2 separate regions of the Homo sapiens genome follow, and region 2 is reported to be linked to region 1. Evidence: microRNA targets listed by miRTarBase, many of them from high-throughput screens and not tested one by one. Region 1 holds a microRNA gene; the other region holds the end of a gene's coding sequence.

Evidence for each region. The annotated mature microRNA hsa-miR-1265 reads CAGGAUGUGGUCAAGUGUUGUU and lies in region 1 at 3,330-3,351, opposite strand. An mRNA with a match to its seed (bases 2 to 7 or 8) in the 3' UTR can be bound and repressed. Matches are read on the target gene's strand: a 7mer-m8 pairs with bases 2 to 8, a 7mer-A1 pairs with bases 2 to 7 and ends in A, and an 8mer does both.
Region 2: miRTarBase lists LIN52 as a target of hsa-miR-1265. Seed matches in the 3' UTR shown: 7mer-A1 at 2,632-2,638.

What each region holds. Positions count from the first base shown.
Region 1 is chr10:14,434,866-14,439,939 of GRCh38, reverse strand. MIR1265 (microRNA 1265) reads right to left here and starts at 3,364; the gene lies at 3,279-3,364.
Region 2 is chr14:74,198,388-74,203,461 of GRCh38, forward strand. It overlaps LIN52 (lin-52 DREAM MuvB core complex component), which reads left to right. Exons shown (of 6, transcript NM_001024674.3): 6 at 535-3,106. The coding sequence ends at 590. Among named protein-coding and RNA genes, the nearest start is that of VSX2, 39 kb to the right of the region's middle. RefSeq lists a silencer at 3,786-3,986.

The sequences.
Region 1 (5,074 bases):
AGATGCCCTTTGCTAACTCAGTCTGAGAAGTGTAGATTATGTTGTTTGAAATACTTTCCAGTCTTCTGGGAAGTGTCCCCTAGTGGAGTCTATGAAGGGAATAAAGTCTTTGTGTTGTCACACATTGCTCTGCTATTTATGAGATGACATAGATTTGAAATGAAAGACTTATTAAGTCCCGTGGTCCACTTTGCCAGGAAAGACTTCTTTCATTGTAGTACTTCGTTTAGCCTGTAGTATTTGTGCATTTTACCACCTATAAGAAGTCAGATGGAGCAGACTTGCCCTGGGTCAGAACCTAGTCCAGCTCATCCTTCGATCTGCAGGAAGCAGCTCATTCAGTAAAGGCAGCACCAGCAGATGCTTAACAGATGTTTGCTGAATGGAATTAAATTGATAGTTCATCTAAAGCCAAGTCTTTGGCATACTGAAGAATTTCTAGTTTGTTTATTGAATTAACACTTATTTTCTGTAATATATGAAGCACTGGGTGTTGCTTTTTTGATAACTTTTTAATATATGCATAAAACAGATTCATCCATCTTAAATAAATAAGATAAAGTACATGGTACAAGTTTATGCTTAATAAAGCACTTTATGCTGATCAGCTAAAAAATAGAATCAATTCTTCTTTAAAAATGAGAGTGAACTCTGTGTAAAGAATGTGACCCACACTCTGTTTTCGTCTCCTTGTTTTTTTCTAAAAGCAAGTCTTAATCGACCCCACAGGCAAACAAACAAAAAAGATGAATGAGAAACTGTAAAAAATACTGAACTTATAAAGTGCTCTTTATAATATAATATGACAAAGCTTGCAGAAGAATTTCAAAGGATATTAACAGGCTTCTCACAAAAGAGATGGAAATAAACAAGAGATTTCAGTTTTGTACTCTGCACACTTCTGTATCATCGCTTAAATTTTTATCAGCAGAAAAAATATTTCTTTTAAAAATAAATACATAAGAGCAGGCCATGTACAACATTTCTAGAAACAAATGTTATGGGCAATGCCTACATTTAGATTCGGTGGTCTCATTCTCAAGACTCATCGTAAAAGACATTGTTGTAAGGTGACTTCAGAGTGCAAGAGTTGTTGCTTTACACGTTTATTCATCTCTGGCAACTGTGAGGGAAGAAGTAGAGATCTCTATTTAGGCAACACTGAGTAAAGCATGTGGTCAAATAAAAAATTGCAGAAGCATCTGGGTGTGGTGGCTCATGTCTGTAATCTCAGCACTTTGGGAGGCTGAGGCGCGTGGATCACTTGAGGCCAGGTGTTCGAGACCAGCATGGCCAACATGGTGAAACCCCGTCTCCACTAAAAAAAAAAAAAAAAAAAAAATATATATATTAGCCAGGCATAGTGGTGCATGCCTGTAATCCCAGCTACTTGGGAGGCTGAGGCAGGAGAATCACTTGAACCCAGGAGGCAGAGGTTGCAGTGAGCTGAGATAGTGCCACTGTGCTCCAGCCTGGGCGACAGAATAAGACTCTGTCTCAAAATAATAAAAAATAAAAAATTGCAAAAGCAGAGACTTGCCCACATATTAAACATCCCAAAAGTGATTCAATGTTTATTTTAAAACTTTCTTGGTGTTATTATGATTACTTTTTTTTTTTTGAGATGGAGTCTCACCCTGTCACCCAGGCTGGAGTGCAGTGTCACGATCTTGGCTCATTGCCAAGCATGAGGCTGGTCTGAAACTCCTGACCTTAGGTGATCTGCCCACCTTGGCCTCCCAAAGTGCTGGGATTACAGGCCAAATTATTATTACTTTTAATGGCAAAAACTGCAATTACTTTTGTACCAACCTAATGCAACACAGCACCATCAGGTTTAAATAGAATTCCTTTCTTTGCATTAATGGCTTTCCTTAGAGTCTCTATTAAAAAAAACAAATAGCACAATAGCCTCAAGAACTGTAGCCTCACCACTCTTCTGAATTGCTTACCTCTTTGCTAATTAGAACTCAACTGGTTCCGTCTACAGCTTCATTTCTTTTCACCATACGGTGATTCCTTTTGAAATGTTTGCTGATATCTGGTCCTGTCTCTTGATTTTAGTTAGCAGTGCTTGGGAAATCCAAATCCTTCCATTACATTCTCAGGCCATACTACCTTTTAAATCGGTGTTCACATTTATTATTCTGCCATCATCTTGTTTTTATTTGCCAAAATAAATGTTGAAGGGCGGCCAGGTACGCTGCCTCATGCCTGTAATCCCAGTAGTCTGGGAGGCCAAGGTGGGAAGGTCACTTGAGGTCAGGAGTTCAAGACCAGCCTAAGCAACGTGGCGAAACCCTGTTTCTACTAAAAATACAAACATTAGCCAGGCGGTGGTGGCAGACGCCCGTAATCCCAGCCACTGAGGCAGGAGAATCACTTGAACCAGGGAGGCAGAGGTTGCAGTGAGTTGAGATCACACCACTGCACTGCAGCCTGGGCAACACAGTGAGACTCCATCTCAAGAAAGAAAGAGAAAGAAAGAAAGAAAGAAGGAAGGAAAGAAAAGAAAGAAAGAAAAAGAAGAAATGTTAGAGGGGAAAAAATGCCTTAGGGCATCACCACGCAGGGCCAGCTTCCTAGGCCAAACTCCCCAGCCTTCTTCGAACGTTCTGCTGTTGCCATCCTAACATTCTTAATACTTATTGAACAAGGGGCCCACATTTTCATTTTGTACTGGGTTCCTCAAGTTATGAAGCTATTCCTGTCACACCCCTGACCCCCATCCATTTCTGAGACAAGCAGAAAGCTGGAATTGGATGGAATGCTAGAAAAGCCAGCATCGATGTGGCGGAGAGCACAGCATAGATTTTTGCTGTGTTTGTTCATATTTGCTGAACATAGCATCTATGGCCGTACGTGAGGGATGTATGGGTCCCTCAAACTACCAGCTGTTATTCCTTAAAATATACCTGAGGTCTAAGTACATGTTCATGCAGCTTGAAAGCAAGAGAGAGAGAGATGCGTACAAAAGCGGGACAGGAAGCAGCCCAGAATGGTTCATGCGGCTGCACTTCTTTCAAACACTGGGACCCTACCAAGCAGAGTACAGTCAAATATTTCTCCTTACTTTGTGTTACATTCTGATATGTAGAAGTAAATTCTATCCATATGTTTCTGAATTATTTATACCTAACTCCTCAAAATATTATTCTTCAAGACCTTTGGAGGTCTAAAAAACTCTCGAAATGCATTTATATTTTCTTGACCCCTTTTTGTCGAACTCAAAAATAGAAAATGGAGGATTACACCAAATATGTGGAAAAAGTTGTAGAATATGGTTTGGAATTCAAAATGTGGTCAAGTATTGTTCCTGAACATGCCTTAACAACACTTGACCACATCCTGAGTCCCAAACCATAGGTCGATTAGCTAAAACACCAAATCAATAGACGTCTGCTCTCCTACCTCCCCCATCCTCCACCCCCCTGCAGCCCAGCTCTATCACTTCCAGCACAAACATGGCAGCTCCCTCTAACTCTGGTTGACTTGCAGTATGTGCAAACCGAGATAAAGCATTCCTTCAAGACAGCCTTCTCTCATAAAAACCTCAATGATGGATCTGAACAGAGAGAATAATATATGGTCTCTGATCATCGGGTGACAGGCAGCATGCATCCTATTTCTGCCTCTGGTGACATTGGGTGGGCTTTTATCCCTTTAGGACATTGGTCCTCAGACCCAGGATTAAAAGACCCTTCTGCCCCAACCACTCTGTTTGGCCTTTGGTTTCTTTGTTAGTTTCCATTGTGTAAACATCTGAACCACAAGGGGCTTTAATTGAGTGAAAGGCAGAGTTCCAGCTCTGTTCTGTATTTACTGGAGGTACCATGGGCAGAATGATGTTGCCCGGCCATTGCAACACAGAGATGATAGTATTTTCCTTTGAAACCGTGGTATGGGTGGAACCCATCAAAGGATAAGTTGACAGATACGTCTCACATATGTTTATATCCCCTCCTGCTTCTTAGCACAATTCCTTACCACAGAAAACTCTGCATATATATTTCTGATATGAACAAAAAGCTTTCAATACCATAAGCAGAAGCAAAGATGAAATTTTTAGTGATGGTTTCTAAGGGAGCACCAGAAAATTTTTCAAAATTCTTTTCTTTTTTCTTCTTTTTTTAAATTTCTTTTTTTTTTTTTTTTTGAGACAGAATCTCGCTGTTGCCCAGGCTGGAGTGCAGTGGCACAATCTCTGCTCACTGCAACCTCCACTTCCTGGGTTCAAGCGATTCTCCTGCCTCAGCCTCCCAAGTAGTTGGGATCACAGGCATGCGCCATCACGCCTGGCTAATTTTTTTGTATTTTTAGTAGAAATAGGGTTTCGCCATGTTGACCAGGCTCGTCTCGAACTCCTGACCTCAGGTAATCTCCCCGCCTCCGTCTCCCGAAGTGCTGGGATTATAGGTGTGAGCCTCCGCACCTGGCCTGAAAACTCTTTCCTAACCCTCAATGCTGTCACAAAATTTTCTGCTAAAGAAAAATAGCCAATTAATCGAAGACCACCTAGTCATATTTTAGAATTTTCTCCAGAAAGGAAGCTGCAGGAGGACAGGCTGCTTCTCTGTTTTGATTGTTGATGTATCCCAAGGGTCCAGAACAGTACCTGGCATATATGGGTGCTCAATAGACATTTGTCGAATGACTATCAGATGGTAGACATTTCTAGAAGCCATGGCTTTTCACTAAGGATGAAAGCTATCATTTGCCACCTATTTTAACCCCCTTTTGCCCTCATCCCACCCTGCTCCCCGCCAAAAAAAAAAAAAAACCCTTCAAAAAAGAAATCTCCCTCTGTAGCAGACCACCAAACCTAGATCAACTGTGGTCTCCAGACCTAGAGTATAATAGCTTTGAAAAATATTGCAATTAACAATGAAACACAACTTCTTAAATTCATAGTCACTTATAGACAATCGCAGTAAAGAGAGGATTGAAGCTTTTGAAATAGATTTCATTTTCAACAGGGTCCAAATTATTTTTTTCTGGTACATTTTCATTTTTGTCTGAATTGGTCTGCTTTATACTTCATACAAAGATAGTCACTGTGGTGTCTGAGGCAACA
Region 2 (5,074 bases), not on the chromosome of region 1:
CTACTTTATGACACCATCCACAGATGAACTGCACTGAGGGAATATAAACCCTGTTATATTACAGTATCCAGGGACTAACACTGCTGAGAGATAGGGTAAATGATCTCTAATTTTGATTTGAGATTATAAATGTCCAGAGACCAGCAACCCAGAGAAGACTAATCTTGGTTGGATTTTAGGCTTCAAGAGCAAACCCCCTGAGATAGTGAACATGAGTATTAGGTTAGATTCTAGAGACAGAGATAGGTTTTGGGGGAATCCCCTGGTGATTTGTTTAAAGGTGGATGATAAAATCTTTCCCAGTCATTTGGCATGTATCTCAATTGCCAACTTCAGAATAGCTTTGTACAGTTTTAGTTGTCTATAGTGGTTTGTTTTTACCCCCTTTTAGGTTAGTTGGTGATGATTGAATCTGTTGTGATAGCAACTTGATATATAATTTAAATCAATCTGCATTTTTAAATTAAATCTTCCTATGATTCTTTTTTCCGATTTTAGGTTTTCATTGATCATTTGTTTGCTTTGTGATTCCAGCCAGAGAGATGACACGGGGGAAATTCCTCAATATTCTAGAGAAGCCCAAGAAGTAGCAGCTGCTTGCGGACAGGATGTCCTGGGGTCCGAAACCAAGCTCCCTTCCCGGTGCACCTCTAACAATGCACACCTCACTGCTTGCTTGGGAGAGGCCAGAGGGTGTACCTCCAGGACTGCCCTCTCCCCTGCTCCTGGCACTCTACACGTCTGAGGACATTCAGCAGCAAGAGAAGAATCTGCTCTACCCAAGGATCATTGCAGTTACTCAATCAACTTTCAGACTTGAACCTTCTTAGCCTCGGATATTGGTAACAGCTGAGGGCATATCATTCTTAAAGGTCGAAGTCCTGCTTTCTCATTTCTGGAAGTGATTCAGGAGCCCCAGGATCTTACGGTTGATTTGACTCAGTCATGGCAGTCAGTTGTGACATGTTGATTGGATGGGTTCTTTTGAATTGTTCTTGATCTCTTAGAAAGTGTTTACGATGTGAGGAGACCAGAGACCAAGTAGATTCTGGACCAGACCATGCAGCCTGACCTGTGAACTCTCCAGTATATACTAAGTTCCCAGAATCCCCAGCTGAAGAAACCAGAATCTTCTCGAAATGTATATCTGTTTTTTAAAACTTCTATACCTCTTATGATAGTCCCATTTGCTTTTCATTCCTTACTTCCCAGCCCCACCTTCTAGTTCTGACTTCGGGCAGAGGGATCCCTGAGTCCCTCCTGGAATTAGCTTGTATAGTGAAAGGCCCATCCAAGGTTGTCTAAAGACCAATGTGAAGGTGACAGAAAGGACTTTTGAGTTCTAATTAATCTGTTACAGCTTCAAGCAAGAAAGTCAGTATAGCCTGAAAGACAAGAGAAACGGGATGGTTTATAGGAGTTCCCATTTGGTTGAAAGCTAGAAGCCCTAATTGACCTTAAAGTAACATGCTATGGGATGGTGGGATTGTCCCCTCTGACAGCACATATGAAATAGTTCATCTATATAATAGAAACGCACACACACGAAAAAGAATCTTCTGACTTAAATACAACTTTCATGGAGTTCTTCACCACTTATCTGTCTCTGTTAAAATCTGAAAATCTAGCCCATGGCTAAAATCTATTATATGTGTTCTCCATATTTCTTGTATAAGCCAGTCCCCAGCATCTGATGTTTTGAGAAGTGCATGGAGTTTCCTAAACTTTGCACAAAAGAATATCCTGGGGCCGGGCATGGTGGCTCACGCCTGTAATCCCAGCACTTTGGGAGGCCGAGGCAGGTGGATCATAGGTCAAAAGATCGAGACCATCCTGGCCAATATGGTGAAACCCTGTCTCTACTAAAATACAAAAATTAGCTGGGCATGATGGTGCATGCCTATAGTCCCAGCTACTTGGGGGCCTGAGGCACGAGAATCGCTTGAATTCGGGAGGTGGAGGTTGCAGTGAGCCGAAATTATGCCACTGCACTCCAGCCTGGGCAACAGAGTGAGACTCTGTCTCAGAAAAAAAAAAAAAAAAAAAAAAAAAAAAAGAATATCCCTGTGGCAATAGTCTGATGGTGTTTGGACACAAGAAAAGTTATGGTTTTGAGTCGTGAGTGTTTGCTAGGGCATGGCACTCTTCAGTTTAACAGCTGATCCATTAAACCTTTTCTGACATTTGTGCCTTGTTCTCATGCTAGAATTAATGCTGGATTTTTCTCTCATTTGACCATCAATGTAGTTTTACTTATTGAAAGGAAAAAAGACTTAACACAAGATAGGAAAGATGAGTATGAGAAGTAAAACATTCTGCTGGGGTGCTACATAGAAGGTTAGGTTGTAGGGGCTTTGATTTTAATTTAAACTTATTATCGATTGATATTTCTGTATCTCACTAAATGCGGTTGAAGAGTGTGTGTGTGTGTGTGCGCGCGCGCATGTGGCCAAAAAATAGTGCCATAATGTCAAATTCTTCCTTTGCTCTGTTTTTGAGAGTTGATGACATCAGGCACTTTTCAGTGTTTGGGGAAATTGATTGGGATACCTCCCCCAAACCAACTCAAGTCTGTAACTGGAAGCCAGGTGGTTGGTTTTCTGGTCCGCTTTGTCCTCTTTCTTTTACCGTCATCCTATTCACCAGCACTTAATGTAAGTAGATGTTTTAGAATTGCAATATTTATTGGTTTAGTATTTGTCATCCTTAGAAATGTTAATGATGTATTTTTATATTGATAATATAAATTTATGTACAGTATGTGTGTATATGTATTTCAGGATGTTATAGTATTGTACTTTGTATGTGATGGTTTTTGTGTCTTCATAATAAATATGTCCCTTTTACAGGAGGGTGAGTTTTTCCTCAGAGGGCCGAGTTGGATATTTAAAGCACAGACCTCCCCAGAAAGTACAACTGTAATGATAAATAATCTACTGTTTTCCCCCTTAATATACTTAATGGATAGTTGGGGGCTTTACAGTCATCTACTTGGTCTCCTGCCTTCCATTCTATCCTACCACTGCCCAACACCCGAAAGTAGTATTTAGAAACCCTTAATACCTTCCCGTGTCTACTAATAAAGTCTCAATCTCTTGACCCGGCATTTTAAGACTCTCTACATGTAATCCTAAGCAACCCTTCCGTTTCGTTTTCTTCCTCTCCTATATATGAAGTCTCTGTTGCAGTTACTCTGAACAGTTCCCAGTTTCTCACTTGAGTGCCTTTGCTCCTGCCTTTGAGTTCCTAGAAGGTCTTGGATCCCTTTTGCATCTGGCAAACCTATGCTTCCTATAATCTCCTGATGATCCAGCTGGAAATGGTCCTTCCCCTACATTCCTATAGCATTTACCCATATCATCCCTGTGACTCTTACCATAGTCTGCCTTATATTTAAGTGGTCTGAGTACTTTTTCTTTTTGAGACAGAGTCTCACTCTGTTGCCCAGGCTGGAGTGCAGTGGTGCAATTTTGGCTCACTGCAACCTCTGCCTCCCGGGTTCAAGCGATTCTCTGCCTCAGCCACCCTAGTAGCTGGGATTACAGGTGCATGCCACCACGCCCAGCTAATTTTTGTATTTTTAGTAGAGACGGGTTTTTGCCAAGTTGGCCAGGCTGGTCTCGAACTCCTGGCCTCAAGTGATCCTCCCGCCTCGGCCTCCCAAAGTGCTGGGATTACAGGTGTGAGCCACTACGCCTGACACTGAGTACATATCTTATTGCCCTACTAAATTCAAAGCTTCTCAAGGTATAGCTGTCTCCTGCACATCTAGTTCTTCAGTGTCTTTGAACTAGGGGTTCAAAACCTGTTTGCTTGCAGGCTTCTGGTTACACATGATAGATTGAAAACAAGTATTTATCTGCCATCTTCTAAATCCCTTAGTGTGGGTTCCTTTTCAACCATGTTCAAGAACTAGAAAAGAGGAAGTACTCATTATTGCTACTGCTATCACTCATTGATAGTTTACCTGCTCTGGACCAGAATATGCCCTTTTAAAGAAAGCATTTCATTTTAAGGAAAGCAAATTGCTTCTCATCATAGGCCCATCATTTATTTCCAAAAAAGACATCTGGATGAACAGTAGATTTCTGTGATCTAGAAAAGCATGGCTGATTGACTAAGTAGGGACAGTGTTAGGAGTGTTCTAAGTCTTTAGAGACTATTTTTACGGTAAGTAATTGTTTATTATTTGCCTACAGATATTTTTTCCCTTTTCCTTTGCCATTCCAAATACCATCCTGTAAAGCATCTGTCAGCTGTGAGCAGCAACATTCTGAAAAGCATAGTATTGGAGCTTGGAGACACATTTGCAAATTCTTATTGACATTTTTTTCTTACCAGCACTCTCATTATTTCTTGCTGTCTTCAGTCTCACAGATTCTAGGCCTCTGCTGATTTGCTTGGCCTGCCTTCCATAGGTTAGAACACTTAAAGTTCACAGGGTATTAATTGTGTTGATATTGAAATGCCATCATTCATTTTTATCTTTCCATTTTTGTCATATTTTTTAAATGGATGCTTGCTAACTGCTCCGTGGTTTTAGTTCTCTAGCTGCTCTTCTGGATGCTCCCAGATCAAGGCAGTGAAAATGGAACTGATGAAAGTCATTCCCTTGTCCCTGTGGCTTCAGAAGTGTGTTTGGACTTCCACAGGAGCTTTGAAATGAAGCCGAGAAATTTCATTTCCAGTGGGATTCCCTGACCCCTCCTGTTTCCTCCAGGATTAAGACATCACAAGAAGGTGAACAGGCAGAGCAGGAAGTGAGGAAATGGACAGTTGGGCCAAGGTGGATGGTCGCAGAAGCCAAATAACACAGTCTCTTACCAGTTCTCAGCTTCTGCACTAACTCCGTCTCCAAGAATTTGGTTATGTTCTCCATTTTCTGTTTTCTTCATCTCGTGAGAGCTACAAGGATACCTGGTCCCTATGTGGGCTTTGTTTCACCAGAGAGTCTTGCAACCCCCAACCCCAGAGAGTGGCAAAGGGTGGTGTCTCCACGGTTGTAAGTTCTGATGGACTGGAACTGATTTTTCCTATCTATGTAGGCTTTTTGGCATTTGGGGTGTGTGTCCTT